Homo sapiens: one gene and its partners. The protein of the gene in region 3 interacts with the protein of the main gene of each other region in a biochemical or structural test. Each region holds a gene or a part of one and is shown on either strand. Other genes may lie near its edges.

The links.
Region 1: the proteins of XPO1 (region 3) and ADAR form a complex in vitro, tested with the Homo sapiens proteins (2 studies listed by BioGRID, with this or other methods).
Region 2: the proteins of XPO1 (region 3) and DESI1 form a complex in vitro, tested with the Homo sapiens proteins (one study listed by BioGRID).
Region 4: the proteins of XPO1 (region 3) and CHORDC1 interact in a test that uses a peptide from one of them, tested with the Homo sapiens proteins (one study listed by BioGRID).

What each region holds. Positions count from the first base shown.
Region 1 is NC_000001.11:154,590,793-154,598,627, forward strand, and holds part of ADAR (double-stranded RNA-specific adenosine deaminase), read right to left. Parts: intron 7,794-7,835; coding exon 7,610-7,793; intron 7,185-7,609; coding exon 7,036-7,184; intron 6,476-7,035; coding exon 6,331-6,475; intron 6,204-6,330; coding exon 6,013-6,203; intron 1-6,012. UniProt on the Homo sapiens protein: Catalyzes the hydrolytic deamination of adenosine to inosine in double-stranded RNA (dsRNA) referred to as A-to-I RNA editing.
Region 2 is NC_000022.11:41,597,153-41,604,503, forward strand, and holds the end of DESI1 (desumoylating isopeptidase 1), read right to left. Parts: intron 7,002-7,351; coding exon 6,892-7,001; intron 6,230-6,891; coding exon 6,107-6,229; intron 4,039-6,106; coding exon 3,945-4,038; 3' UTR 876-3,944; downstream 1-875. UniProt on the Homo sapiens protein: Protease which deconjugates SUMO1, SUMO2 and SUMO3 from some substrate proteins. Has isopeptidase but not SUMO-processing activity. Desumoylates ZBTB46. Collaborates with UBQLN4 in the export of ubiquitinated proteins from the nucleus to the cytoplasm.
Region 3 is NC_000002.12:61,479,115-61,486,949, forward strand, and holds part of XPO1 (exportin-1), read right to left. Parts: intron 6,849-7,835; coding exon 6,654-6,848; intron 4,992-6,653; coding exon 4,823-4,991; exon of another isoform or gene 3,978-4,822; coding exon 3,843-3,977; exon of another isoform or gene 3,513-3,842; intron 3,426-3,512; coding exon 3,266-3,425; intron 2,168-3,265; coding exon 2,071-2,167; intron 1,470-2,070; exon of another isoform or gene 1,211-1,469; intron 1-1,210. UniProt on the Homo sapiens protein: Mediates the nuclear export of cellular proteins (cargos) bearing a leucine-rich nuclear export signal (NES) and of RNAs.
Region 4 is NC_000011.10:90,219,566-90,228,266, forward strand, and holds the start of CHORDC1 (cysteine and histidine-rich domain-containing protein 1), read right to left. Parts: upstream 3,485-8,701; 5' UTR 3,390-3,484; coding exon 3,326-3,389; intron 3,135-3,325; exon of another isoform or gene 2,964-3,134; intron 1-2,963. UniProt on the Homo sapiens protein: Regulates centrosome duplication, probably by inhibiting the kinase activity of ROCK2. Proposed to act as co-chaperone for HSP90. May play a role in the regulation of NOD1 via a HSP90 chaperone complex. In vitro, has intrinsic chaperone activity.

The DNA of each region.
Region 1 (7,835 bases), on a different chromosome or scaffold from region 3:
AAAAAAAAAAATTTAGCTGGGCACGGTGGTCTGTGCCTATAGTCTCAGCTACTTGGGAGGCTGGGGTGAGAGGATCACTTGAGCCCTGGAGGTCAAGGCTGCAGTGAGCTATGACCATATCACTGCACTCCAGCCTGCGCGAGACAGCAAGATCCCCATCTCTAAAATAAACAAACAGACTCTAAAAATGTAAATATCCGTAATACTAGGTATGAAAAAAGAGATAAAAATGTAAACACACTGAAATAGGAAACTTTGTTTCACTACTGTAAATGGAAAACCAGTATCACTTGCCACATATTGAAGGTGGCTGTAAAACAGAATATGATAAAATCATGTTATAAAATTCTGACTAGATACTGTTACCTGCAAAGGCTCTGAGCCTGTCCTTACTATAAAGGAAGATTATGAAGTATGAGGAAGGCTTAACGAAATGCTAGCACCAACTTGGACTCTCTTCTTAAGCAGAAATCAGAAGGGACTACCTTTCTCCCCACAAGTCACTGTTACTTCATACACTGTCTGATTTTTAAAGCGCCCAACTCCATTCCCTCATTTACTTCCTATTAGCTCAAGGGGACTTGACCTGGAGAGGTCATTAGGTCAAGGTCGGCCTTAGGCCAGGGACCCAGGTTTTGCTGGGAGTTGTTTTTTTGACTCCTGGCAGGCTTAAGCTAACTCTGGGGTAAGGAATGGATCTTGGGCGCATGAGCTGCGCTGACAATAAAGTGCCCAAGTGGAGCAGGGAGGTGGCTTCTACCGCTCCGGCTGGTAATTTCCAAACACAGAGGGAAGAGCATGGTGGAGCAAAACAGCTTGGAAATGTACCAGACAAGGCATCAAGAATCCTAGCTTTCAACCAGATCCTAATCTACTGGCTGAGAACCCAGCTTTGGATACTCTAACTGCATATAACAGAGGCTTCAGTTTCAAGACTTAGCAGCTCAGGCAGTAAAAGGAATCAACGTTTATGTTCAACCACATGGAGTTTCTCACTGTTCCTTGATGATCCGAAGCAACTAAATGCCTTCACTCTTTTCTTTGTCCATGCTGGCAGGCCCGTGCAGGCCAGTGGGCTTAAGTTCAGAATGAGAGGGACAGTGGCATGAAAAGAAGATGGTGAAGGCGGTCAGGAGGGACAGATTGTGTAGTATCTTTACCTCAGGGATCCAGGAGAATTTCATGACTGCCCCATGTGTTTGAAAAGAATATGAACTCTTACGTGCAAAGTTTTATACTGATATATTTACATATATGATAAAGTTTGTTAATTATGCAACTAGAATCCTTTAGAGCTGTGCTATCCAATATGGTAGCCACTAGCCAAATGGGGCTATTGCCATAAGTGCCTCCTCTCAGCCTCTTTGCCAGCTCTGCGCTTCTCCCACCACAGGATTTAACAGTGTCCTTCGCCTAGAACCCTCAGTCTTTCTCTCTTCATCATCCTTAAAGTCTCAGCTCAGGCAGTACTTCTTGGGGAAGCCCTTCCCCCTCTCCTTCCTAAGTCAAACTGTGCTATAATTGATTCTCGCTGCAACTCCAGCCCTTTGGAATACTTATCAAATATGAGATCTTACATTTCTTTAGGTGACTATTGGTTAATGTTTGGTTCCTGTTCTAAAAAAAATAGAAGATACTCCATAAATAAGTGTTGAGTAAATAAAGTATAAAGATCAGTTAGGAGGCTATTGTGACAGTCTAGATGAGACAGTGGCTTGGATTAGAGTGCTGACGCTGGAGGTGGAAAGAAGAGGAAGGGATTTGGGATAGAAATTCTAAGTATAACCAATAGGACTTAAGGATGAGTTGACGAAGGAGGTAAAGGAGATAGAGGAAAAGATGATCCTCAGGTTTCTGACTTGAGCCACTGGGTAGACAGTGGTATCACTTACTAAGCTGGGAAAGACTTGGGGGAAATGAAGCGAAGGGGGCAAAACCCAAGAGTTCTGCTTTGGACATGTCATATTAGGGATGTTAATCCAAACAGAGGTGACAAGTAAGCAACTAGATGGAGGAATCGGGAGCTCTGAGTGGTCTCCAGCATTTAGATATTAAAGGTCATGGCTGTCGCGGTGGTTCATGCCTGTAATCCCAGCACTTTGGGAGGCTGAGGCGGGTGGATCATCTGAGGTCAGGAGTTGAAGACCAGCCTGGCCAACATGGTGAAACTCTGTCTCTACTAAAAATACAAAAATAGTCAGATGTGGTGGCAGATGCCTGTAATCCCAGCTACTCGAGGAGCTGAGGCAAGAGAATTGTTTGAACCCAGGAGGCGGAGGTTGCAGTGAGCTGAGACTGCGCCACTGCACTCCAGCCTGGGTGACAGAGTGAGACTCCATCTCCAAAAAAAAAAAAAAAAAAAAACAGAAAAGAAGTCATAAAATTAGTTAACGTCACCAGCCACAGTAGACAGAAAGGAAAAAAAGACCCAGCATAATTCACATTAAGAAGCAACTAAAGTATATTATTGTACGAGATAGTTAATAAACGTAGTTACTCAATTAGCATTTCCCCTCTCTATGCAACCTTCCTCAGCTCCCTGGCAGACAGTGGCAGCAGTGTCCTCTGTGTCCCCACAGCACTCTGCATTCACCTCCAATGGCACATTTCAATACTGCTATGGCTATATGTCTGCTACACACTCAGGGGCAGCAATTTTTTGTATCTTCCATCTAGTTCATAGTAAGTTCTTACATTCTCAATGAATGGCTGACTTGAAGTCCTAGAAAGGATTTCACAGAAGATTTCACAGAAGAGAAAGAGGAAATGCACTGAACCTATCATCTGAAGGACTGTGCTTAAAGATAAGGAGGTGCTTATTGAGATGAAGGATATGAATTAGTAGAAGAGCAGCTGGAGGGAGACTGGGCCTCTCCTTTTCCAGATGGCTTAAACAGTGGGCAGATGTGTGTTCTAAATTGGGTCATGTTGGGCAAAGGGCTACTTTTAAAAATTATGTTAAAAGTTCTTACATATCCATGAGAGTAACAATCTGAAAGAAAACTGGAAAAGGACAAGAACAGGTGGTTCACAGAAAAGGAAATGCAAATAACACATAAATATGAATAAATGAAATGCCATTACTTCTGATTTTTTTGTTTTTTTTTTTGAGACGGAGTCTCACTCCATCACCCAGGCTGGAGTGCAGTGGCACAATCTCAGGTCACTGCAACTTCCGCCTCCTGGGTTCAAGTAATTCTCCTGCTCAGCCTCCGGAGTAGCTGGCATACAGGGGCATACCACCATGCTCAGCTATTTTTTGTATTTTTAGTAGAGATGGGGTTTTACCATGTTGGCCAGGCTGGTCTCAAATTACTGAGCTCAAATGATCCACCCACCTCGGCCTCCCAAAGTGCTGGGATTATAGGCGTAAGCCACTGCGCCCGGCTGACATTACTTCTATTAAGGAGAGACAAATTTAAAGTAACAAGATAGCATTTTTATAAGCTTTTTTCCTTAATGACTTTAAAATGGACAAGTTGGATGCCAAACATGTGAAAATTCAAACAGTTAAGAGTGTACAATAAAAGTGTCCCTCCTTCCCCAGAAGCAAACACAGTTGCCAGTTTTTTCGATCCTTCAAGAAAATATTCTAGACATATACAGACAATCTTCACCTCTCCCCTCACTTTACACCTTGCTTTTCCACTTTGTGATAGACCTTAGAGATTAAGAAAACATGCCGGTTGCATGGCAAGAGTGATGCCATCTTGATGCAAAACCACTATGACCACCAATATCTGACTCCCGCATCCCAAAGTGTTGGGTAGCATAAATAATTCCACACAAAGATGTCTACCAAGCCTCCCCACCAGCTAGTGCTCATAAGTTTCACAAGAAAGTATAATGTGTGACCAGCTGCATGTTTAACCAAAAAAGCCTCTATAGAAAGCATACTTTCTGGAGGGTAAGTGCAGGGATCCACCATCTTGCAGCCACCCAAGACATCATTTCTGTTCCTAAGTCCCTATTAAATGTTTACTTCTGAGAAACTGAATTTGTCAGCTTCTATTCAATGAAATACTATGCAGCTATGCAAGAAGTCTGGTAAGTAAAGGAGTCAACGTATAAAACAGAAGATATACTTGTTTAAAAAGACAAAAGGGAAAATGTGCTAGTTATGCACAGCAATTTCTAGAAGGACTCAAGAAACTGGTATAGTCATGTACTGCATAACAGTGTTTTGTTCAATGATAAATCACACATATGACAGGGGCCCCGTAAGATTATGATGGAGCTGAAAAATTCTTATCACCAAGTGCAGGGCTCTGTAACCTGTTAGGAACCTGGGCACACAGGAAGAGGTGAGTGGCGAGCAAGAAAGCATTCTGGTCCGAGCTCCGCCTCCTGTGGGATCAGCAGCAGCATGAGATTCTTGTAGGAGTGTGAACTCGACTGTGAACTGTGAATGCGAGGGATCTAGGCTACACGCTCCTTATGTGTTTACTATATTTTTATCATTATTTCAGCGTATACTCCTTCTACTTCTAGAAAAATAAGTAACTAAAAAAAGCCTCAGGCAGGTATTCCAGAAAGCACTGTTACCATAGGAGATGACGGCCCCCATGCATGTTATTGCCCCTGAACACCTTACAGTGGGACAAGACGTGGAGGTGGAAGACAGTGATACTGAGGATCCTGACCCTGTGTAGGCCTAGGCTAACAGCTAATGTATTTTCATCTTAGCTTTCAACAAAAAAGTTTAAAAAGTTAAAAAAATAAAAAAATTTACAAACAGAAAAAAGACTATAGAATTAAGGATATAAACAAAGGAAATATTTTTGGATAGCAGTACAACATGTTTGTGTTTTAAGCTAAGTATTATTACAAAAGGAACAAAAAATAAAAAAGTTAATAAAGTAAAAAATAAAGTAAAAATAAAGTAAAAAAGTTACAGTAAGCTAAGGTTAATTTATTAAAGAAAAATATTTTAAATAAATGTAGTTAGCCTAAGTGAACAGTGTTTACAAAGCCTACATTAGTGTACAGTCATGTCCTAGGCCCTCATATTCATTCTCCACTCACTGGCTGACTCACCCACAGCAACTTCTAGTCCTGCAAGCTCCATTCATGGCAGGCGCCCTATACAGGTGTAGTATTTTTTTAATCCTTTATGCTGTCTTTTTACTGTATCTTTTTGCTGTTTAGATAGACACCAATACTTACCAGTGTGTTGCAGCTGCCCACAGTATTCACTACAGTTACATGCTGTACAGGTTTGTAGCCTAGGAGCAACCGGCCATACCATACAGCCTGTACGTGTGTAGGAGCCCATGCCATCTAGGTTTATGTAAATACACACTGATGTTCTCACAACAACAAAACCATGCTTCTCAGACCGCATCCCAGTTGCTAATGCAGGGCTATAGTAATATATGGGTCTAGGGAGGGAAACTAGAAGTCTGAGACGGAAATGAGACTTTTCATTGAAATGACTACTTTTTCAATCAGCTTGAATGATTTTTTTCAAGATGGAGTCTTGCTCTGTTGCTCAGGCTGGAGTGCAGTGGTGCGATCTCAGCTCACTGCAACCTCCGCCTCCCAGCTTCAATCAATTCTCCTGTCTGCCTCCCGAGTAGCTGGGATTACAGGCACCCGCTGCCACGCCCAGCTAATTTTTGTATTTTTAGTAGAGACAGGGTTTCCTCATATGGTCCGGCTGGTCTTGAACTCCCGACCTCAGGTAATCTACCTGCCTCAACTTCCCAAAGTGCTGGGATTACAGGCGTGAGCCACCATGTCTGGCCTGAATGATTTTTTAATGTACCTATACATTTCTTTAAAAATTAAAACTAGTCAAAAAATTAAAAAGGATCATGCTTACTGGAAGAGTGAACGCATTCACTCTTGGCAGGTCTATTGTCTTCTAAGAGGCCGTGGAGACAGGGCTGGACTTGTTTCCCTCAACTCGCCCCTTCTGTCCTACACAGCTAAAGCACACCCTTGTTTTCCCTGGGTTACAGACCATCCCCAACTGGTGACACATGCATTAGCCAGGACTAGGACACTCACTTGGGCTCGTGAGGAGGTCCGGACTGGTCGACCAACTTGAATTCAGCAGCAAAGCCATGGGAGCGGGCGTACTCCAAAAGGCCACCCACAGGGTTGGTGTTCAGGTATCTCACGAGCTCGCCAATCTTCCTGACCTTGTTGGGCATCATGGATTCCAAGTTATCAAGTGACTCTGAGATCATACCTTCAGGCTAAAGGAGAATCCATCAAACAGAGGAGCCATAAACACTTCAGGAAATGTTGAGGGAGTCACTGGCAATCTTAAACCACTCAGTTGCTAAAAATGACCTGTATCTTTTGAGTAGGAAAACGCCCTACCTGGTTATCAGAAGCCATGGAGTTGGTCGCCTCCCCATGCAGGGCCTTCATGGCTTCCTCTGCGGCCATCTGCTTTGCCACTTTCTTGCTGGGAGCACTCACACTGGGGAAAGTTTGGGCTCCCACTGCAACACAGTATTGGAACCTGACAGGAGATGAAGCACGTAGAAGGATTAAAATGGTTTTGACTGAGGAGCCTGACCTAGCCTCTGCCAGGCTGCCATCCTCCACTACTGGTAATTTCCTTGAACACATCACCTCTGTGCAGTCACATCTCATGCAGTCACTTCTGCCTTGAACAGCCAGTGTCTCTTAGCCTGGCTGACCCCTTTCAACATTTAAGCATCAACCTAGTTTCACCTCTTCCAGGAACACTTCTCTTGAACATGTGAGTCTATAGACCCACAGGCAGAGAGCTTCTCAGGTCCTGTACCTTTCTGTCCCACCAACAGTGAGTGACCTCCAAGCCGTGAACCTCCCTAGTGCTTATAGAGGAGATAGAGGGTGGGCCAGGAATTCCCTTTGAATTCCTAATCCCTAATTGTCTGCCTCACAAGCAGCAACCAGGACCTCAGAGCCCTCCTTTCCCCATTTTGAAACAGGAGAAATTGGTCAATCTGCCATCCCTGAGGAGGCAAGGAAGAAAATGTGTCTCTTTTTCTTTCTGAGAAAACCTCAGCTGGACAGAGGACACGTAGGACATACTTGGGTTCATGGGCAGGGCCTTCTTTGGACAGGAGACGGAATTCGCAGGAGTTCCCCAATTTGTGCATACACTCAAGCAGTGTGGTGACGGGGCTCTTCCCAGAAAAGAAGGATGTGGCTGAAGGGGTGGGGGTCTGGGACTCTGCAGTCTAGAGAAAATGAGAGACAAGAAGAAAACAAAACTAAGAAAACACTGGTTAGTCCATCACAGAAGAAGGGATGGGGATGGGGGACTTTATTCCCACCACCTGTCAAGGGGTTGGCTTCCCAAAGTTAAAGGGGCTGCTGGAGCTCTCATTCCGCATCTTCCAAGAGAGGAGATTGGCCTCAATAAACTTTCAGGTCTCTTTCAAGTCCGAAATTCTGTAAATCCAATTATGTTGGGACAGGAGCAGACAGAGGAGCTGGGTATGAGAGGAGGAAAGGTGGGCTGGCGAGATAGGGTAGAGGGAAGAGTGGGAAGCTGACTCCGAGATGGTGTCAGTTGTTTAGGCTGGGATTGCCTCAAGGGAGTCAGTTACAATCCAGACACTGACAGGGAACTGATCCTCCCAGATGGCAGGAGGACACCTACCTTCTCTGATTCTTTCTCTGTGGAATAGTGGGATGATTCTTCTGATTTTCCACTGTCCTTGGCTTTGGCTTCCTCTAGCAGAATTGTCATGGCTTTCATAGCTGCATCCTGCTTGGCCACTTTCTTGCTTCCAGCTTCAGCTGGGGGAAACTCTCGGCCATTGATGACAACCTGGAATTTAAATCTTGACGGAAAGTGATTAGATGTGTGAACAGGAGTCTAGGTC
Region 2 (7,351 bases), on a different chromosome or scaffold from region 3:
GGGGAAAGGGGATCCAGGTGGAGCAAAGGGTGAACCGAGGCTTGGAGGTGTGAAACCACCAGAAGTGACAGGGACTGGGACTGGCACTTGCAGCAGGGTGTGGGGTAGGACCAGGGTGTTCAAGGACAAGATTGAGAAGGGCCTTGATAAATGAGGACAAGGAGCTTGGCTCTTACCCCATGGGCTCGTAGGGGTCCACACGGGCTGAGGGGAGCTGGACGAGCTTACTGAGGTGGCCGAGGGTACCCAAGACCAGCCTGGCATTGGGCGTTGGGCAGTAGGCTGGGCCTGGTGTGCAGGGCCACAGCGCCACCTGGTATCCATCACTCTCACTGCAGCGTGACCTTGCCTGGCTCTCCAACCTGGGAACCAGTGGGGCAGCCTCGTCCCAGACACACTCTGCCTCTTTCAAGAGCAGCCAGGCCCTGTGGTCAAGGGCTCACATTCAGTGGTGTGCCAGGCCCCCACTAGGCTCCTTGCGTGCCCTCTCAGCTACAGCCTGTCTGGGCATGAGGAGCCACAGACCCAACCTAGAGCCAAGTTGAAAGTAGAAGTGAACACTTTTCGGTGAGGTCAGACACTCCTGATAGCTAGAGGAAGACTACAGAATTTGAAGTTATCAGACAAAGCATTGAGCTGCACCAGCTGCAAGGTGACCTTGGGCAAGTGATATTCTCTCTGGGCCCTTCCCCCATCTTTATAAACCAGTGGTGAAATTCAGACATCCTTCCCTGTTATCACTTCTTATCTACAGGCTCACAACCATGCAAAGGAGACACATCCAGACCCCGCAGACTTAAGCTCCAAGGGACCCAAAAGCCTGGGGTCGCTTCATGTTGGATGCATGTGCAGACCTGATTCAGGCACCACACAAATGCAGCAGGCAGAAATGAGTTTATTGCATTAGAAAAAACACCGAAGAAAACCAGCAAACACCTCCGTACTAGACAGTTATTAGTTTGACTCAAGGGCATAAAGAAAACTCAGATACTAGATTTACTTCTGGGAGGGGGTGATGGTCTCATCCCTCCTCCTTCCCTATCCCTTTAAACCAATGGACCTCTAGAGGTGTCCACTGTGCAATACAAGTACGTGACTCATTTCCCACTGTGCTTGCCTGTTCACATCCAGGCGGAGTTAGCCGGCCACAATGAGAATGCTCCTGAGGTGCTGGGACAGACAGAAATATGAGGATGGGGGTAGGCAGTTGAAGCCTGAGCCTGAGTTTACAGTTAGTGACAGTGGGGCTCCCATTGGGAGGGAGAGCTTGCCTTCCCATGGAGCTCTGGGAAAACTGCTCAGTGATCCCTCGCTCTCTCCCCACAAACCCTAGGGCACAGGCAATGGCACAAATGGCTGCTAGTATAAAGGGGGGTGCTGTTCAAGGAAATGAGTGACTCAAATTCTCTCAGGGGAGCTGCTCCTGGGCCTAAGGGTGCCTGCTGGAAGAAGCAAACCAGCTGAAACTGGATCTGGAAGAGGAGAAAGGAAAAAAAGGAGCTGTGATGCCCAGAACCCCCTGGATGGAGGGGAGACCCCAGGCAGAGGGGTCTGGAGCAGGACCCTGGAAGACAGAGCCGGGCCAGGCAAGCTGGAAAAGGGAACAACACTGGTGGGAAACAGAGCACTGGCCAAGACCAACCTGCTACCCTCCCAGAAGAAACCCAGCCTCAGAAATTCTTTCTCTTTGGGCCCAATTCTGCTAGTAGATCACGATTATACAACAGTCCCTGCTAGTTTCTGCTCTAATCTATTATTTCCATGCACACTGGCAAATCAGTGGGTCTTGAGAAGAATTAAACTTTCAATCATTTGGCCTCTACAAGTTCCCAAATGTCACTTGACATCCCAGCTGGTCATGCCCCTGGTCAGGTCGCAGGCAAACACTAAGGCAGAATGACAGCTCCTCTAGCTGAGACTCTGATGATGCCAAACTGTGATGGCTGATGGCAAAGATAGCAGCAGATGGGGCCAGAAATGAGCAGCAGCTTTTTGGAGAGGAAAGGCCTGTGCTGCAGGCCAGACTTCCAGGAAGAAGCAACATAATTCAAGTCCGTGAAGTGGCAAGAAGTTGTGGCAGAAGGGGCCCAAGGATGTCAGACCTGAGACTCGGGTACCTGGCAGCTCTGAGTCCCTTCTTCATGCTCACTTTCCCAAAATCTAACTAATGGAGGTTCATGTGAAGAGAGGGAATCTGAAAGTCTCTCTGGATTAGAGACTCCCAGACTGTTCCCTGCCTATAACCTCCTAGCAGCAAGTCATTAGGAAAATGCCCACTCATGCCCCAACCTGCCTTTCTAAAGTCAGAATGACAATGGAAATAACGTGTGCCTTCAAAACACATTTAGGATAAGGGAAAGTCCCTATCAGAAACGATTCTAAATTTTCTTGCCACCTTGATTCCACTTCATTATTTTATTTTTTTGAGATGGAGTCTCACTCTGTCGCCCAGGCTGGAGTGCACTGGTACGATCTCGGCTCATCGCAATCTCTGCCTCCCGGGTTCAAGCGATTCTCCTGCCTCAGCCTCCCGAGTAGCTGGGACTACAGGCATGCGCCACCATGCCCGGCTAATTTTGTATTTTTAGTAGAGACGGGGTTTCACCATGTTGGCCAGGCTGGTCTTGAAGTCCTGACCTCAAGTGATCTGCCTGCCTCGGCCTCCCAAAGTGCTGGGATTACAGGCGTGAGCCACCGCGCCAGGCCTCACATCATTATTCTTTCCATATCAAAGGTATTTTCTGGCCAGGCAGCGGTGGCTCACGCCTGTAATCCCAGCACTTTGGGAGGCCAAGGGAGGTGGATCACCCGAGGTCAGGAGTTCCAGACCAGCCTGGCCAACATGGCAAAACCCTGTCTCTACTGAAAATACAAAAATTAGCCTGGCGTGGTGGCACGCACCTGTAATCCCAGCTACTCAGGAGGCTGAGGCAGGAGAACCACTTGAACCCGGGAGGCAGAGGTTTCTGTGAGCCGAGATCATGCCACTGCACACCAGCCTGGGTGGTAGAGCGAGACTCCGTCTCAAAAAATAATAATAATTAAAATAAAGGTATTTTCTTAGAGTAGGGAATCCCATCCCTTGGTCCCCAGCTAAATACTGCGTACTGGCCTGGATGGTGGTTACAGAGACTGCAAATAACCTACATCATTACTTGCAGAAAAAAGGCCTTGGCTTCTACTGCTCCAGCCCAGACCTCATCCACTATGACAAGTCAGCTATGCTGAGGAAAGGCAGCCTCGGGGGCACAAAGGCAGGTTTCCCAAAATTGATGGCAGAAGATTGGCAATCCATCTAGGTGGAAGGAGGAATGGCTTTATCCTGTTTTCTCCGGCCTGATACTTGCTGTTACTCCCTTGATCCGGAGGCAATGGCTGCTCCAGCACTGGCCTTGCTTGGGGTAAGGGAGGGAAGGTGAGGGTTGTGGCTAAAGAGTTCACTTAGGTTAGGTTAGTCATCCTGAAACCGGTCCCATGTACACCAAATCCTTTGGTTCATTTAACACTAGAGTAACTTTCTGGGTCACGGATGTTCTAAAACTCACCTGGGTCCCACAGGTGTTGGCAACTTGGGTAGAGCGTGAGTGTTCTCTGGAAAGAGTTCTAGGTTGGGGCTCCCGCAAACTGTGACTCGCTTTCTGTTTAAACAAAGCCCCTCCCTTTCTCCAGTGTGGAGGACGCTTAGGAAACAGCATCCGAAGTGAACGCACAGACAAGACAGCCTTAATAAATTAGTATAATACTATTAGAAGGGGTGGCATTTTGTTCTGTTTCTTAGCAGCATTGTCTACATGCGGCCTGACGGTCTCCTTCCCTGGGAAATTTAAAAAGCCGTCCCCTGGTTGTTAGCTCTGATGTAAAATTATAAAATAGAAATCTGGTAGGGTTTGTTTTGTTTAAAAAGGAAAAGCCCTGGTGAGGCAGGGCGGTCCCAGGCAGTCCTGTTAGCTCTGGCCGTTGGGTCTGCCCACGGAGCTCCCTCCTGGAGGCTGGATCTGAATGGAGTCCAGGAGGGGCCGAAGTGCCTGTCCAAAGGGCCTGCAAGGAAACAGAGACATGAGAGGGGTGGGCTCTGGGATGTGGCCTGCTGTCACACACCCTGTGCTGCCCACGGGTAGGGAGGAGGAGTGGGCGCTGGTGGCAGCAGAAGCAGCACCAGCAGAGAAGGAAAGAGCACCTCGTCACCTCACTTAAGTTTCCCACCTGCCTCACACACCAGTGTTCTTGGAGGGCATCTCCGAAATAGCCTGCTCTGTATTTTTATTCCTGGGGTTCCCTCCTCAGGGCCTCACCTCTAGAGCCTGGTTAGCTGTGGTTTGAGTAGGCTGGCTACATACAGAGAACTAGAACTTTCTGTGCTCTATGTGCTTGTGTCTTTAATTCTTGTGAGCAAGGAAAAGATCAAATTTAAGCAGGGAAACTGAGGCAAAAGAAGAAGGATATGAAAAAGAAGACAAAGGGGTGAGGACAGCAAACAACTGGATTTTTTTCAGGAACAGAGGTCTGCCAGGGAGTACAGGGAATATTCTGGAAAAATGACAAATGCTAGGTTGCCAGTATTAATGCCTTTCTTTCACCCCGAGACAGAGTCTACCTCTAGCCTAGAGCTGGAGTGCAATGGCGTGATCTCGGCTCACTGCAACCTCTGCCTCCCAGGTTCAAGCAATTCTCCTGCCTCAGCCTCCCAAGTAGCTGGGATTACAGGCGTGTGCCACTGCGCCTGGCTAATTTTTTATTTTCAGTAGAGATGGGGTTTCACCATGTTGGCCAGGCTGGTCTCGAACTCCTGACCTAGTGATTTGCCTGCCTCGGCCTCCCAAAGTGCTGGGATTACAGGCATAAGCCACTGGGCCCAGCCATTAATGCCTTTCTAAAGGGCTCCTAGGTTGCTCTCATAGTAACAGATGGAAAAAAAACTACAAATACTGGAGTTTGGAGATTTTCCATGATTACGACAACCATAAATAAGGTTGCCCAGAAACTTTTAAGTCACTGGCTTTTTCTTCAGTGGATACTGCCATTTTTGAAAATCATCTCCAAGTTTAAAGGAATGAAGTACTCCAAAGTATAGACAGATGAAACCTAGAAATATCAAACCTAATTCAGACAATTCCAGGAACTCCACCCATAAAATAATAACAGCAAGCACATTCTGGCTACTCCAGTTTGCTCAGGGCCCCATAACCTAGATCCCTCAGCAGAGCTGTGGGACTGCAAACTCATCGAATGATAGGAAGGCAGGGCCAGGGCTGGCGGACTGGGGCTCCTCACCAGCCTGCCACAGCAGTCTTGTTTCCTATGCAAGCTCTTCCTGGGAGGTGCTTCCTCAGATATAAAAAACAGCCCACCTTGCTGGGCCTGCGAAACCTGCCAGGATCTCTGTTAAATAAGGCCATAGTTCAGGAGAAACTGAGTCAGAATAAGCAAATAGACATGGTCCTGGAATGAGCAGAGGCTGCCTGAATGCAATCAACGACAAGAGGGAGGAGGTGAGATGGCTTTGGGGGTGTTGTGTCCTTTCGGGGTATACTGCCTGGATGATGGCCTGCAAGGCTCTTCCAAGGCTTGGGGCACATCAGGACAGAACGGGCTGCAGAGTGTTCTTGAAGAAAACATCTGTTGAAGACTGTGCTGTAATACATGAGGGCAAGTAGAACATAGTCGTTGAGGGAGTCAAAGAGTTCATGGTGCAGTGTAAGGCAAATCAACAGCTACAAAACAAGCCCCCCTACTATTTTTCTGACCCCCTCTCTGCTTGTCTAACATTGCATTTTAACTGGGTGCTTCTGGGGAGTGGCATGCTTCGAGCACAATGGGAAGGACAGACGCCAGAATTTTGTGCAAGTACTGAAGCCAGTGTCAAGTGGGTGTCTAAGTTCTGTGGTTGCACTTAGGCCAGGGCAGAGCTGGTCTAGCTCTGAAGGTGGAGGTAATACAGGTGCGCATCAGTGGGTGGAGAGAATGGCAGCCTTCTGTGTTAGAATCTGCCATCAGGGCAGGCCCACCTGGTTGGGAGGGCAGATGGGGGCCAGAGGAAGGGCACTGACCGTGAATGGGGATTTTCAAGGTTGGCCAAGGCAGGGGCAGGGACAGAGGCCACACTTACGTGGAGAGAACTTCAGAGGGCAGGTCTGTGATGTAAGAAGGAATCTTCCGCCCAGTCAGGAACTGTGCCACTTCGTTGCTGAAGGTGTTACAATTGTGTTCAAAGAGGTTGTAGGCCTCACCTCTGTACATTGAAAGGTTTGCAGAACATATATGAGAAACCAGCAAGCGTCTATGTGGAATAACTCAAGCTAGGCAGTGGAATGGTGAGCACAGCTCAATGTGAGGATTGCGATTTCCCCCGTCTCATACACCAGAAAAGCACTGCTTATTTGCCATTCTGGCCATTAATAACTGATTTTTAAGGGAAGGAGAAACTGAAAAGACATGGCTCCTACACAGTTTCAGGAGAATCTTTACATTCACGAAAGCAGAACTCTGGTGTTAAGAGTTTACCCCCTTACTGAAACTGACTAAAGCCTCTTTCAGAGAAAATCTGCTCAAGTTTGTATTTCATCCCAACCCTTCTGCAAACCCTGTTTTTCCTTCTGCAAACTTGGCCAATACAGGTTGAGAACAGCGCTTGCCGATTTTAATCAGAAGGAATGAAAAGCCCTTATTTCCTCTAAAAATTTCGGCAGAAAGTATGTTTGAAGGAATATCTGTATCAGAACAACTTAGAGCTTTTTGTAGCATAACTGCCTTTTCTTCATGTTAATTCAGCAAAAAACTGGGCCAGGCCTTGTGCTGAGTGATAAGGATGATATGACATGGCAGCTGCCTCCAGGGGTTATTATCTAGCTGGGGAGACAGACACAACTAACCACCACCCCTGTCTCCACTCACCGGAACAGGGACTCCCCCAGGGAGGAGAGGTACTCCAGAAAGATTTCTTCTGTGACTTCTGTACTCCCCACATCAACCACAGAGTCTGGAGGCCCAAGCAATGTCCCTCCCTAAAAGAGCCAACCCAAAGGAAGTCATTAAGTTACCATCTCCACTGAATGTTTTAATGTGGCTTCCCACAGTAGACCACAAACACTCTGTTCTGACTTTTTTTTTTTTTTTTTTTTTTTAGACGGAGTTTCTCTCGTCACCCAGGCTGGAGTATAATCTCAGCTCACTGCAACCTCCGCCTCCCGGGTTCAAGTGATCCTCCTGCCTCAGCCTCCCAAGTAGCTGAGATTACAGGTGCCTGCCACCATGCCCAGATAATTTTTTGTATTTTTAGTAGATACAGGGTTTCACCATGTTGGTCAGGCTGGTCTCAAACTCCTGACCTTAAGTGATCCACCCACCTCGGCCT
Region 3 (7,835 bases):
GTATACTACATAGCTGAATGAACTGCAAACCTGTTAACTGGTGGGGGGGAAGATTACAAAAGAATCATGGGCCCCGGCATGGTGGCTCACGCCTGTAATCCCAACTTTGGGAGGCAGAGACGGGAAGAATACTTGATGTCAGGAGACCACCCTGGCCAACATGGTGAAACCCTGTCATTACTAAAATTAGCCATGCATGGTGGCACAGGCGCCTGTAATCCCAGCTACTTGGGAGGCTGAGGCAGGAGAATCACTTGAACCTGCATGGCGGAGGTTGCAGTGAGCCAAGATCACGCCACTGCTCTCCAGCCTGGGTGATAAAAGCGAGACTGTGCCCCCCCAAAAAAAACAAAAAAAATGGTGTGATACCTTACAGTAAATAGTCTTCAATGTGATTATTATGCATTGTATGCTTCTACCGAAGTATCTCATGCATCCCATCCCCTAAGTATATACACCTACTATGTATTCACACAAATTTTGTTCTCTTTGTGATAGAGTCTTGTTCTGTAGCCCCAGCACATTATCTCAACCTCTTCCTCCAAGATGCAAGCAATTCTCCTGCCTCAGCCTCCCCAGCAGCTGGGATTACAGGCACCACCACATCTGGCTCATTTTTTGTATTTTTACTAGAGACGTAGTTTCACCATGTTGCCCAGGCTGATCTCAAACTCCCAAGCTCAGACAATCCACCTGTCTCGGCCTCCCAAAGTGCTAGGATTACAGGCATGAGCCACTGCACCCAGACACTTTTTTCTCTTTTCTTTTGAGAGGCAGTCTTGCTCTGTCGCCCAGGCTGGCGTGCAGTGTTATGATCTCAGCTCACTGAAACCTCTGCCTCCTGGGTTCAAGTGATTCTCCTGCCTCTGCCTCCCGAGTAGCTGGGACTACAGGCACCTGCCACCAGACCTGGCTAATTTTTGTATTTTTAGTAGAGATGAGGTTTCACCATGTTGGCCGGGCTGATCCTGAACTCCTGACCTCAACTGATCTGTCTGCCTCGGCCTCCCAAAGTGCTGGGATTACAGGTGTGAGCCACTGTGCCCAGCTAAAAATTCTTCATATGCCAAGATACCAAGAAAGATGTTTCTCCTAAGGCTAATTAATAACTGTCATTAAATTAAGTTTAGTTATATTATCATTGACTTCGTAGCTATCAGTTAACTTTTTTTTTTTTTTTTTGAGATGAAGTTTCACTCTTGTCACCCAGGTTGGAGTGCAATGACGTGATCTCGGCTCACCGCAACCTTTGCCTCGTGGGTTCAAGCAATTCTCTTGCCTCAGCCTCTCAAGTAGCTGCGAATACAGCTGTGCGCCACCACGCCTGGCTAATTTTTGTATTATTAGTAGAGACGGGGGTTTCACCATGTTGGCCGTGCTAGTCTCAAACTCCCGACATCAGGTGACCCACCCACCTTGGCCTCCCAAAGTGCTGGGATTACAGGCATGAGCAACTGCGCCCAGCCTAGGTAACTTTCATTAGTTTTTTAAAAATTGGCTAATATTTTTACAGTAAAAAAAAAAAACCTTTGTATTTTGGAGAAAATATTTAAGAGCTAAGAGACTAATTCTTATTCAACAATCATGGATAAACTATTCATCAACTACTTAGGGTTTCACAGTACTTCCAAATTTCTTTAAAGCAAGATGTTCAAAGAAAAACCCTTCCCAAAAGTATGAATAAAGCACTGTATAACAGCAGAAGAAAGACATTCTATCTAGTAACTTTCACAAGTTCCCTCAACTAACAAAATTGGTATAAAATTATAAAAAGAACTACCAACGTTTTTCTTACCCAATATTCCATTATACATTTAAGACTACCTAAAATGAATTACATTAGTAATAAGTTTATCCGAATAACATCTCAAACATATCTATCCTTATTGGACTTTAGTTTTTCACTGTATTACCAGTCTCAGGTTTTTTGATTACAGAGATTGTGTAAACGTATTATCTTGAAACCCCATTTATTTGGCATGACAAATCAAGTGATAAAAATTCTACAATGTAACATAAAAGTGGTCACATCTACCCCTAATATTTCTGCAAGAGCAAATAAATACATACCTTTATTTGAACTAGGAAATCTCTTAAATGTTCCTTGAAAGCAGGAATATCTTGATTTAAGCTGAAAAGCCCTGTCACAAAGAGCTTTACTTGAGCACTGCAAATCAAAACACAATGATTAAATAATGATTTATTTTTCCCCCGAGACAGAGTATTGCTCTGTCACCAGGCTGGAGTACAGTGGCATGATCTCTGCTCACTGTAATCTCTGCCTCCCGGGTTCAAGACATTCTCCTGCCTCAGCGTCCCAATAATGTTTTTTTTTTTTAATCAAGAATTTTTTTTTAATTTTTGAGACAAAGTTTTGCTCGTTTACCAGGTTGGAGTACAATCGCACAATCGCGGCTCACCGCAACCTCTGAAGCTATTCTCCTGCCTCAGCCTCCCAAGTAGCTGGGATTACAGGCATGCACCACCATGCCCGGCTAATTTGTATTTTTAGTAGAGACAGGGTTTCTCCATGTTGGTCAGGCAAATCTCAAACTCCTGACCTCAGGTAATCTGCCCGCCTAGGCCTCCCAAAGTGCTTGGATTACAGGCGTTTGCCACCGTGCCCAGCCTTTTTATTTTTTGAGACAGTCTTGCTCTGTCACCCACACTGGAGTGCAGTGGCACAATCTCGGCTCACTGCAACCTCTGCCTCCTGGGTTCAAGCAGTTCTCCCCCTCAGCCTCCCAAGTAGCTGGGATTTCAGGCACCCACCACCATGCCCAACTAATTTTTTGTATTTTTAGTAGAAACGGGGTTTCACCATCTTGGCCAGGCTGGTCTTGAACTCCTGACCTTGTGATTCACCCACCTCAGCCTCCCAAAGTGTTGGGATTACAGTCATGAGCCACCGTGCGTGGCCTTTTTTTTTTTTTTTTTTTTTTTGCTTTTTTAAAGAGGCAGGGTCTCACTCTATCACCCAGGCTGGTGTACAGTGGTGCGATCATAGCTCACTGCAGTCTTAAACTCCAGGATGCAAACAACCCTCTCGCCTCAGCCTCTCCAACAGCTGGTCCTACAGATGCATACCACTTCTGACTACTTTTTTTTTTGTAGAGACGGGATCTTGTTTTGTTGTCTAGGTTGGTCTCCAACTTTTGGGCCCAAGCAATCCTCCCACCTTAGGCTTCCCAAAGTGCTGGGATTACAGGTGTGAGCCACTGTGCCCGACCAGGAACATTCTACGTTTATTAAAAGGTATATTTACTCTTGTAGGTGAGGGAAGGCCGACTTAAGGAGATTAGCCACATATTCCTGAAGAAAGATTTGGTTGTTAACTGGATTTCCAGGATTTAATGATGTACTTATTTTTCCTTCTTCAACCAAATTAAACATATATGCAAGAATTGATGCATGCATTGTTAAACCTGTTGATAAGAAGAAAATTATTAACTCCAAAATGTAATATAACTATAGATCTTAGCGTTTTTTTTTGTTTTGTTTTTTTTTTTTAGACGGAGTCTCGCTCTGTCACCCAAGCTGGAATGCCGTGGCGCAATCTTAGTTCACTGCAACCTCTGCCTCCTCGGTCCAAGCCATTCTCCTGCCTCAGCCTCCCGAATAGGTGGGATTGCAATCACATGCCACCATGCCCAGTATTTTTATTGTATCTTTTATTTTTTTATGGTATTTTTAGTACAGACAGTTTCACCATGGTGGCCAGGCTGTTCTCGAACTCCTGACCTCATAATCTCCCCGCCTCGACCTCCCAAAGTGCTGGGATTATAGGCGTGAGGCCCTGTGCCCAGCTGGCACTTAACATTTAAATCGTATTAAATTCTTACCAGCAGTATGTGAAGTGTCTGTCACAACAGAAAAGATATGCTGGAGAATATCACAAAAATAAGTTTGATAAAAACTCTGAGCTGCAGCTTCTTCTTGTGCAACATTTTGTAAGAGTGTAAAAAGTATCTGTAAGCCTAAAAGACATAGAATACCAATGGAAAGTTACTACAGACTGACAGCACTCATGATAGTATTTAGCTCTTATCAAAGTATTCTGAATCTAACCCTGTTCTCCCTTTTTTTTGGGATGATGACTAATAATTACTTGCATAAGGTTTCTTAAATTAATAATGGAATACAACTATATCCAATGCTGGCTTACTTATAAATTATAATAAGTTGTGTGAGAGCTAAACTGTGAAGATGTAAAGGCATAAAGATCATATAATGGACTTTGGGGACTTGTGGGGAAGGGCAGGAGTGGGTGAGGGATAAGACTACACATAAGGTGGAGTTCATACACATGAGGGATAAGACTACACATAAAGTAGAGTTCATACTGCTCACATGACAGGTGCACCAAAATCTCAGAAATCACCACTGAAGAACTTATTCATGTAACCAAAAACCACCTGTTCCCCAAAAACTATTGAAATAAAAAAAGAACCTCATGAATATTTTTTAAAAGCCTATGGGAAAAAAATTACAATCTAAGTTATGACTATTACCACCCTTTCACCATTTCTGAAAGCTCAGCTGATTCTATATGAACTTCTACAACATCACTACCCAGTAGAACTTTGTATTACGCAAACCAATTATTACTAGGCCGCTCTCCCCATAACTCAATTCTGCCTATGGACTCACTTGGAGTGGAGTGGAACAGTTGATTAAACTGCTTATAGGATTTTCTCAGATGTTCATATATGTAATTCACACACTCAAAACTCTGAACAAGTAATACCTTCCTATGTACAATTAACTATATTTGTATTTTTGGATTGGCAGGCAAATGAATAAAAGAACATCTTTTATTTACCCGTATCTGCGACATTCCTCATAGTATGTTTGAAAGCCCAAATGATGGAATCCAAAACAAGTTTAAACTGTGTAGGTGGAATAGCAAGGAATGCTGGGAAACAATGAGAATTGACAGCCTGAAGTAGTAAGAAAAAGTTCGTTCTATGTTCAGGATATTCTTCAAAGTCCTAAAAATAAGTGGTGGAAACAAAATAATGTTTCAGTGTCTTTGTTGTGCTAGACAGGAGGGGAAAAGCAAGGCTTAATCCAGTATAAATATTTGGAGTTTTCAATAAACCACAGAAGATAGAATGCCTCCTGAAAGGTAAACCCAAGTAAAATACAATCCACCTCTCACGGAAAATGAAACTGTCCCGTTACGCACATGAGTTATCAAATTGAAGGAGAAAGACAACCTTTTTAATAGAGAACTCATCTAAACCATTATTACCATAAGACTACTACTATCACTTTTGTTTTTAATTTGAAATCACCACTACAGATTACAAAAAAATTTAAGTTACCGTGTAAATGTGTCCACTTAACGTATCTTTTATCTCTTTTTTCTTTTTAAACAGTCTCACTCTGTCACCCAGGCTGTAGTGCAGTGGCGCAATCTCAGCTGACTGCAACCTCCGCCTCCTGGGTTCAAGAGATTCTCCTGCCTCAGCCTCCCGAGTAGCTGGGACTACAGGCATGCGGCACCATGCCCAGCTAATTTTTTTTCTTTAGACAGAGTCTTGCTCTGTCACCCAGGCTGGAGTGCGTGGCGCGATCTTGGCTCACTGCAAGCTCCGCCTCCCGGGTTCATGCCATTCTCCTGCCTCAGCCTCTCCGAGTAGCTGGGACTACAGGCGCCCACCACCACACCCGGATAATTTTTTGTATTTTTAGTAGAGACAGGGTTTCACCATGGTCTCCATCTCCTGACCTCGTGATCTGCCCACCTCGGCCTCCCAAAGTGCTGGGATTACAAGCGTGAGCCACGGCACCCAGCCTAATCTTTGAGTAGAGATGGGGTTTCACCATGTTGGTCAGGCTGGTCTTGAAATCCTGACCTCAGGTGATCCACCGGCCTCGGCCTCTCAAAGTGTTGGGATTACAGGTGTTGAGCCACCACGCCTGGCCATTTTTGTATTTTTAATAGAGATGGGGTTTTGCCACGTTAGGCAGGCTGGTCTTGAACTCCCGACCTCAGGTCATCCGCCCGCCTTGGCCTTCTGAAGTGCTGGGATTACAGGTGTAAGCCACCATGGCCAGCCTATTTTCTCTTGTTAACACATTTTTCAGTTTCTTATAAGCATATACTACACTTTTATAATTGAAACATGCAGACTTACTTTCTCATTTATTCAAACCAATTAATACAACTACGTTCATAAAAGGATGCCCCGACCTATGAGGTTTCAATAAATGCTACATACCATGTGAATGCTAAAATCTGTTTTCCATATTTACTTTTTACCAATCAAGATTCTGTGTAGTAAATTCTTCTTCTTGGAGTGCAGTGGCGCAATCTCAGCTCACTGCCATCTTGAACTCCCAGGCTCAAGTGACCCCCCCCCCCACTTCAGCCTTTCGAGTAGTTGGGACTACCGGCACATGCCACCATGACTGGTTACTTTTTGAACTTTTTGTAGAGATGAAGTCTCACTATATTGCCCAGGTTGGTTTCAAACTCCTGGGAAGTAAGTTCTTGAAAACCAAGAAAGTATTTCCCTAATATACAAGTTTAAATATTTAAACTCCATGGCATTAAAATTATGTTATATCCACAGACATACTTTAGCTTTCAAGAATTAAGGCTATCCTGCAGAATTTCCCCCTTACATAACTGAAATATTACACACCTTATTTATCATATTCAATGTGCATTCAAAAACAGCATCAAATATTTGAGGTATTTCAGCTGTTATATGTCCCCCTAACTTGTTGACAATTATGGCCATAGTACTAAGCACTTCTGGTTCTCTAGCAGCTGGGACATTTCTCTGATAATCAATGAGAACTGCATCCAACAGAGGGGGAACAAAATTTTCAGCGACCTGTTGGGGAGGGAAAAAAAAGTTATGTTTTAATTTAGGTACATGGTGACTATTTTAAACAACAAGGTTATTCCTGTCTATGAGATGTAGCATGATCATCTACTGAAAACAGGAAAATCTTGTGTTTGTATTAGGGTTTCCTACGTCAAAACAGTTTTTAGCAAAAGAAAGCAGGAAATCACAATGGGTTGGGAAGTCTCATGGACACACTGTCATTCAAGACTTTTTTTTTTTGAGACAGTCTCACTGTCACTCAGACCAGAGTGCAGTGGCAAATCTCTGCTCACTGCAACCTCCACCTCCCAGGTTCAAGCAATTCTTGTGCCTCAGTCTCCTGAGTAGCTGGGACTATAGGTATAGCACCATGCCCAGCTACAAAACTCTCACAATAAGAAAAGTGAGGCTCAAAATTCAGTGGGTGTCTCCAACTTAGGTGGCAGAATCAGGATTCTACGTATACTGTATATGTAAGATGGCAGCAAGCGAGCCCTCAATACTGTCTTTTTATTTTTGAGACGGAGTCTTGCTCTGTCGCCCAGGCTGGAGTGCAGTGGTGCCATCTTGGCTCACTGCAAGCTCCGCCTCCAGGTTCACGCCATTCTCCTGCCTCAGCCTATCGAGTAGCTGGGAGTACAGGCACCTGCCACCACGCCCAGCTAATTTTTTATATTTTTAGTAGAGACGGGGTGTTTCACCGTGTTAGCCAGGATGGTCTTGATTTCCTGACCTCGTGATCCACCCAACTCAGACTAATGTTTTAATCTAATGAATGCTAACTGGTGAGTATTTTCACAAGCAGAAATAACATCAATCAATTACTCTCAGAAAATAAGAAAGACTATGGATTTCTATTATTTTTTTGAAACTGAATCTTGCCATGTTGCCTAAACTGGACTTGAGCTGGGGTGATTCGCCTGCCTTACCCTCCCTGGTGGTTGGGATTACAGGTGCATGCTACAATGCCCAGTAAGATTTTCATGATTCTAA
Region 4 (8,701 bases), on a different chromosome or scaffold from region 3:
AAAACACTTAAGGCATTCTTAAACCACAAACAATAGCATGAGCCATATGTGCCTTAAGGACATGTTCATGCTGCAGATAACTAGCCAGAGCCCATCCCTTTATTTCCCGTAAGGAATACTTTTAGTAAATCTCCATTGGAGGCTCTCAGCTCTAAGGCTGTGAGACCCCTGATTTCCCACTCCTTACTATATATTTCTGTGTGTGTGTCTTTAATTCCTCTAGCACCACCGGGTTAGGGTCTCCACGACCAAGCTGCTCTCAGCAATTTGCAAGATGGAGTACTATATTTTTAAAAATCAGGTAACAGTCAGCTTCATCCCTCTGCAATCTGCTTAAAAGACTATCTTTCAACCTTTCAAGTCTATTTAGCTTTCAATGCTCTACAACAACCTTGTCCAACATGCCGCCCCAGACAACTCTGAATGTAGCCCAACACAAATTTCGTAAACTGTCTTAAAACATTATGAATTTTGTTTTTGTTTTCTTTTAAGCTCATCAGCTATCATTAGTGTTAGTGTATTTCATATGTGACCCAATTATTCTTCTTCCAATGTGGCCCAGATAATTCCTCTTCTTCCAATGTCGCACAGGGAAGCCAAAAGATTGAACACCCTTGCTCTATCACCTGATTCCTGGTGTTGCCTCAAAATTTACTACTGGTGCTCACAGAAATCTCCCTACCCCGTTACTAGCCAGTATTGCTTCCTTAGTAACCATGTGCTGCATAGATACTAGCTAATGTAGAAAGTGTTAGGTATCTTCCTGATACAGTAAGTAAATCCGTGGGATCAGAAAGATGTTATTAATTAAGGGTAGTTGTGGAATTAAGGGCTGAAAAAGGAGGTTGGAAGTAGAAATGGGTATGCAGAAGGACATGAAGTTGAGAGGGGAATGGAAGTAGAGAATAGATCCAGTATTTTCAAACACCAAATTTAAAGTAGTCAGAAACATAAACGCAATGTATAACAGAGTCAGAGGCATAAAATGTCACAATAAGTCAATTTTGGCAGCATGGCAGCAGGAATGAGTCAGATCTGAACCATACAACTAACATGAACACAATTAGAAAGCCACTGCTTTCAAAAACAAGAAGTAACAAGCAAATGGACATTCTTCATTCTTTCTTTAATATCCATCCTTTCTTTATCAGTTTTAAGAGTTTTGGCAAAATTAATATTTTATGGGTGAGAAGCTACAAGACAGTAGCAGTGGTTAAGTGTCCAGGGCTTCTAACATTGGGTCTGACCCTGGCTAAATTTCTCACTGAGCTACTCGCTAGTAGTTCCTTCAGTTTTCCTCGTATACGTCGATTAAAAAAAATACCGTTTGTGAAGCTGTGTTTATTCTAGAATAAGTGTTTAACATATGTAAGTTACCAACTGTGTCTCCCTTAAACACCCTTTAACTTCAGTTACAAGTTAAAACGTTCTATCAGCTTAAAAGGGAGTCTAATTTCTGTCTCTAGGGGGAAAAAAAAATCATGAGACTATAAGTCAACGAGCACGGTAATTATGCCACAGCACCGAGAAAAAAAGCATTTAGTGTAGATTAAGAAATATTTAAAGATGACAGATCCAACATCTGGCTTACGCAAAATGGAACTTGCTTGTGTATTTACCTCTTTTAACTTATTTCTGTCAACTGTACAAGGTCAAACCTCTTCCTAAAAAACCTCCTAACCAACCTTTCTATTTAGTTCTTGTCTCCTACTCCGTATCTCCATTTTCTTCTCCTTCCATTCACTCAATCAGTTTACTTGAAAAATGTATTCTAAGTCTCTAAAAAAACCGTCATTTCGCTAAAGTAAATATACTTATTGGAATTTCTCTGCTGTAACTAGTACTGCTGACCACCCAAGTTTTGAGACGGTTTTCCTGGTCGCTTTCTGTTTCCTAGGCACTGCACCAATTCACACATGGATACAGACTTCCAACAAATGACTATCGCCCCTGAACTTTATTGTCTCATAAGCAAAGCGTCAGTCTTTCCCCTGTATTCTATATTAAAGTAGAATATCTGCAGACATAAGTGCAATTAATGTTTTACATAGGCTGCCAACACCAAAGGGCTTTAAAATCGTTTCTCGATTTTGTCATCGACTGAAATCTCACAATTTTCCTCATGAGTAGCATCATATTTGCATCATAAAAATGTCAGTGGCGGTAACTTGAGTATTGCATAGGTTGGATTTTCCTTTTCCTTAAAACTCTGTATCAATGGTCTTATTTTAAATAACGCTATCAATTTACCTGTGTGCCAAAAATAAGTATTTCAAACATCTCAGAGGTGAAGAGTTCAAAAGGCATCAGTTTTCATCTCCTCCACAATAATGAAGGATGTTATTAATACAACCTCATTGAACTGAGCTTCTCTATCAAATGGGTCTAATTAACATTACATGCGTCCCAGGGTGGTTATGAAGATTAAATAAGATAAAGCAATAATGGCTGGCATGCAGAAAATATAAACTAAATGCTAGTTCAATCTGAAAACGTGTTGTCACTTCTCACGATACGCAAGGAATCATCTCACTTCTTTGTCAATCAAAATTTCAATTCACTGATCATTTCCCGTCCTTCACCTAATAGTCATTTTCGCTTTGGATCCTTAACTCGACATCTAGGTGCTGTAGATGACATTCACTCATTTTATACGGGAGTAGGCATGGTAGTAAAACGTGGAGGCCACAAGAAGAACAAGCAACAAATGCCGCTAGTAATAAAAAGATAACTAACGTACCACCAGGATGAACCTATCAAAACAGCGTGAAGATACAGAGTAATGTCCCTTACCAAGAACACTTGTAAGAGGTTTGTAACAGCGGATCGACTGAACACAAACTTCTACAAGGCAGAGCTTACATGCTAGGACAACCCGCTGCTCATCCCGGCCACCTCTCCCTCTCGCGCAGGCAATCACAGCCATCACTACTTCGGGAACTACAAAGCAAGCTCACCAGTACCTCGTTAATTTTTGCTTCCCCAGAGACTGGAGGGCCAGAGGAGAAACGTGTTCGTTCTAAATTCCAGGCGACTTAAAAGGAGTGCGGGGACGACGGGGGAAACACGTGGATCCATGGGAGCGTCTCTCTCCGCAGTGGCAGAGGACAGTCAGGCGCCGGGGCCGGGCGCTCGCCAAGGGAACGCGGCGCAACAGAGGGGCGGCCGGCGGGCTGCGCGGGCAGCCAAGGGAGGCCCAGGAGGGGCATGGACCTGGGGCCGCGCGAGGACGGCTGCAGGAGATCCGCGGACACCCTCCGGCCCAAAGGGCCTCCCCTGCTGATGAGGTGGAGGGGAGGGAGGGCTGGCGGCGCGTTCCTCTTACCGTCGGAATTGGTCTCAGGATCGAAGCGCTGACCGCAGCCCCGGTTGTAGCACAGCAAGGCCATTTTCTTTTCCCACCGTCACAGGCAAGGCCCAAACACCGGGAACGGCAAGAGGATGCGTTTGCCACTCCCGTGTCGCTAGCACCGGTCTGACGACTGAGGCGGCTACCGGCTTCCGGAAACGATCCGTTGCGTTTCAGGAACCTTCGCGAATTTTCCGGTCGCGCAGGCGCAGAGGAGAAGGGACGAGGCGGAGGTAGCGGCGGGAGGCTGGCACTAGCCCGGGCCACGATAGGTCGGACTACAGCTGGTAGCAACTGGGGGTCGGAAGTGGAGCCCAGACAACAGCGGAGGAGAAATTTCCGGGGCAGAAAATGAAGGTGTCCGAGAGACTGACAATTCTCTTCTGACTTCCTCAGTGCTAACTGGCTTTGGGTATCTCCTGCAGCAAAGTGGCCGCCCCGCCCTCTCATCCCCTGCGACCCAGCACCCTTCTTCCTTGCCTTGAGGCTGCGCCTTAGACAGCCCGGTGGGTATCTGTTTACCCCTTAGCACTAAGGGATAAGTGCACAGTAAGTGCAGAATCATACAGTGTTTCCAAATCCTCAGGGTAGACGTGTGAGCTTAGTAAATGAGAGGAATAGCGGACGAACCTCTCCGTGTGTTTGTGTCTCGAGTGCCCTCATCTCAGGAGCAATTTTAATAACTTAACAGTTGCGGTCACATTACTTTGAAAATACAAAAAACGTAGAAATCAGAGTAGCAAAGAAAATTATGGATCTGATGCTGTGCCAGAATTGATCACAGTTGCTCTAAAGCCCTGGGGTAATAGTTAATATTTCATGTGAGCCTCCACTTAAACGATTTATCAATACTCAGTACACCACTCTTGGAACAGCTAGTAAAACTTCAGGTGCATTATAAAAAGTACAGTAATGCATTGGCTTCAACTTGCATATTTCCCAAACATGGGCGTTTGCAAGAAAAGCAAACACTTTTTGATAACATATACTGAAGGATCTTAAAATAAGATCAGCAGCTTATAAGTGAACCTAAAAATCTATACACTGTTTCCATTGATCTCAAGGTTATTTAGAGATCTGCTCACGTCCTCCTACCCCTAAAGACTTTTTAGTTTTTCATATTCTCTTTCTCTTCTTCTACCTAGAAGTATTAAATTTTCATATTGTGATCCACCATAGATAGGTATGTTTTCTTCATTTAACCTAACGTGAGTATTTTTCTATTTTGTTTCATAGTCATTGTTACAAATGACGGAGTATTCTGTTGAATAAATGCACTGTAATTTAACCTTTCTCTAATTTCCCCAACTTTATTATATATAAGTTACAGTGCTCAACCTGTGTATTGTTTTTCTTATTTCGAATTTCCCCCTTTAGGAAAATTTTTGGAAAGCGACAGTTCTGGGGTAAAGGGCATAAGGCTTTTTAAATAACTTTAAGATTTTAAAGATATATAGAGCCAATTGCTTTCCGAAAGGTGGTACCAATTTACAATTGCACCGGCTGTGAATGTAATAGACCGTAGAAATTGATCATACACAATTGGAAATGAGTAAGTGGAGAGCTCTAAAAAGTTTTAGTTGTGACCAAATCTGTTGTCTTGAGTATCCTAGTATCAATGCAACATTACCAGGATTGTTAGTGAACTAAACCTTTTAAATAATTTTAATGTTTATTTCTAGTTTTTCATCTGTAGCATTTTACAATCAGAATATAATTGCTTATGGTAGATAATTTGGAAAACGCAGAAGTATACTAAGAACAAAGTCAACAATAATTCCACCACCCAGCAATAAGTACTGAATGGCTAAAATAACTCTTTGGTAAATTTATTTTCAGTGTTTCCTGACACCCCAAGCATTTATAGATATATATGTTTAAAAAGAGTCGTGTTATATATAGGAGTTTATGTTCCTCCCTTGGGTATTTTGAGAAACTATAAAATTAAATCATTCTTATGATTAAGAAAAACAGTGTTACAGCAACAGCCTGTTTCAATCCCACCTCCACTTACATTTCCATTCCAACACTTCAGTGCTGACTAACACCCACTGTTTGAAAAACTTTCTAGAATTTACATGTATATTTTATATACACTTTGAATATATCTTCCCTTCCTTCTTTACCCCCATACATATCAAAATATGCTTTAACTTTGACTATCTTGTTATTAACAAAAGACTTAAATAAATATGTTAACTTAAAACAATTGTCAATTATTCTTGGTGCAAAATGAATGTTTATCATACTACTCTCTTTTTCTGCATTTAAAAATATTTCTTAAAACAATTCAGTTAAGTTTAATTAAGCTCCATTATCTTGGGCTGGGTGCTGTGGCTTACGGCTGTAATCCCAGTACTTTAGGAGGCCAAAGTAGGTGAATCACCTGAGGTCAGAAGTTTGAGACCAGCTTGACCAACATGACGAAACCCTGTCTCTACTAAAAATACAAAAAAATTAGCTGCGTATGGTGGCGCATGCCCGTAACCCCAGCTACTCGGGAGGCTGAGGCAGGAGAATCACTTGAACCGGGGAGGCAGAGGTTGCAATGAGCTGAGATCATGCCATTGCATTCCAGCCTGGGTAACAAGAGCGAAACTCTATCTCAAAAAAAAATTAATTAATAATATAAATAAATAATAATTAAGTTCCATTATCTTAAAAACGATTATAGATATGTATGTATCCATGTACGTGTATAAAATAATATTTGAAAAGACCATTAATCTCTTATAATAACGGATATGTATAAAGACAAGGATGAGTTTAAAGGAGTAAAGTTAATATTTTACTTTATACTCTTAGATATGTTTTGAAAATGTAAATACATACTCATTTTTGATATAGTTAACATTATGAAGAGGACAAAAAACCAACTTAACAATGACTATTTTTATTTGTTCTACTTTATTCGAAAGATGAAAATTTCATCCATTATGATTGTGTGTTGAGCAGTTTGTGGTTTCTGTATTTTGAACATATATTATTCATCCTATAAAGGTGCATGTCTTTCGTATTTACATAGTTTATGTTTTTAATATAAAATGACCTTCTTTGTATCATTTTGTATTTTTGTCTTGAAACCTACTTTGATATTAATGCTTCAACTTTTGCTATGTTTCTCTTTGTTTTTGCCTAATAAACCTCACCCTATCCATTTATATTTAACCTGTGTCATCTTGTTTTGGGCATATCTGCTGTAAGCAGCAGATAGATTGCATCTTGTTTTTCTTTTTTTAACTCAAATCCGAGAATCTTTTTATTTTGCAGAGAAGCTTAACCTTTTTATTTCTGATTAATGCTTGAAAGTTCAGGTGCCAAAGTGGCCCAGAACTTATTAATGGTTTTATAAGTCAATTAACGTCAATAAGCCTGAGTTTTCTTATCTGTAAAACATTGATAACAGAGTGCTGTGAAGATTAAGTTAAACAATGCATGTAAAACATATAGTCTAGTGTAAGCACTGAATGATAATTTCACAAAAGTTTAGCAATGAAAATGGTCAACTTAGATGTTTAGTCCTATTTGGTTATTTCACTTTTGTTTTCCCTTTTATATGCAGTTGTGTCTGCTTCCTTGCTTTTATTTTATTCTATTTTCTAAATAAAGTATGTGCTTGCTTTTTTATTTTGTCCACGATTTAAAAAAAAAATATATATATAGGTTTTAATTTATTTCAGCATGTATTAAGTAGTTAATGTGTGTTGGTACATTAGATGCAGGATACAGTGGTGAACTGAAGTGACATTTTACCTGTCTTCGTTGTATTTGAATTTTATAAGAAAGACGGATGTGAATCAAATATTCCCAATTATGAATTCAATCACTGATAATTGCCATAAATGCTATGAATGGGAAGTACGTTATGCTAAGTTAGTGGAGATGGGAATTTGCCTAATCTTGAGTTGGAGTGCAGGCATAGGTGTTAGTCTAAACAGAAGTCCTGCAATGGAAGGTAGTATAACATTAAAGAAAGCACAGAATCATCGAGGTAAACCAATGCTCAGAAATAAGGGATACCAGATGTATTAGGACATTCTTGCATTGCTATGAAGAAATACCCAAGACTGGATAATTTATAAGAAAAGAGGGTTTAATTGGCTCACATTTCTGCAGGCTATACAGGAAGGGCTCAGGAAGCTTTAACTCATGGCAGAAGGCAAAATGAGAGCTTGTACTTCACATGGTAAATGCAGGAGCAAGTGGTGGGGGAGGTGCCACACACTTTTAAATGATCAGATCTCATGTGAACTCAACTGGAGAACTCACTCATCACCCAGGGGATGGCCCAAGCCATTCATGAGAGATGCGCCCCCATGACCCAAATACCTCCCACCAGGCCCCATCTCCAAGATTGGGGATTACATTTCAACATGAGATTTGGGCAGGGAAAACTATCCAAACTATATAATTCTTCTCCTGGCCCCTCCCAAATCTCATGTCCTCACATTGCAAAATAGAATCATACTTTCTCAGCAATCCCCTAAAATCTTGACCTTTGCCAGATTTAACTCAAAAGTCCAAAGTTTCATCTGAGACAAGACAAATCCCTTCCACCTATGAGCCTGTAAAATAAACAAGTTAGTTACTTCCAAGATACAATAGGTATGTATAGGCATTGGGTAAACATTCCCATTCCAAAAGGGAGAAATTGGCTAAAAGAAAGGGGCTATAGGCTCCATGCAAGGCAAAACCCAAGCAGGCCGTCATTAAATCTTAAAGCTCCAATGTAATCCCCTTTGACTCTATGTTCCACATCCAGGGCACACTGGTGCAAGGAGAGGGCTCCCAAGGCCTTGGGCAGCCCTACCCCTATACCTTTGCAGAGTACAACTCCCCCAACTGCTCTCATGGGCTGGGATTGAGTGCCTGTGGATTTTCCAGGTACAGAGTACAAGCTGCTAATAGATCTACCATTCTCAGGTCTGAAGGATGGTGGCCCTCTTCTCACAGTTCTACTAGCCAGTGCTCATTAGAGACTTTGTGTGGAGGCTCCAGCCCCATATTTTCCCCTCCACATTGCCCTAGTAGAAGTTGTCTGTGAGGGTTCTGCCCCTGCAGCAGGCTTCTGCCTATACATCCAGGCTTTTTCATGCATCCTCTGAAACCCTCACAGAAGCTTCCAAACCTCAGCTCTGGCACTCTGTACATCCACAGGCTTAACATCTCATGTAAGCCATGTAAGCTTATGGCTTGCATCCTTCAAAGTGGCAGCCCGAGCTGTACCTGGACCCTGTTGAGCCATAGCTGGAACTGGAGTGGCTGGGATGTGGGGAGAGTAGTTTGCCAAGGGCTCGGCCCATGAAACCATTCTTCCCTCCTAAGGCCTCTGATGGGAGGGGCTGCCATGAA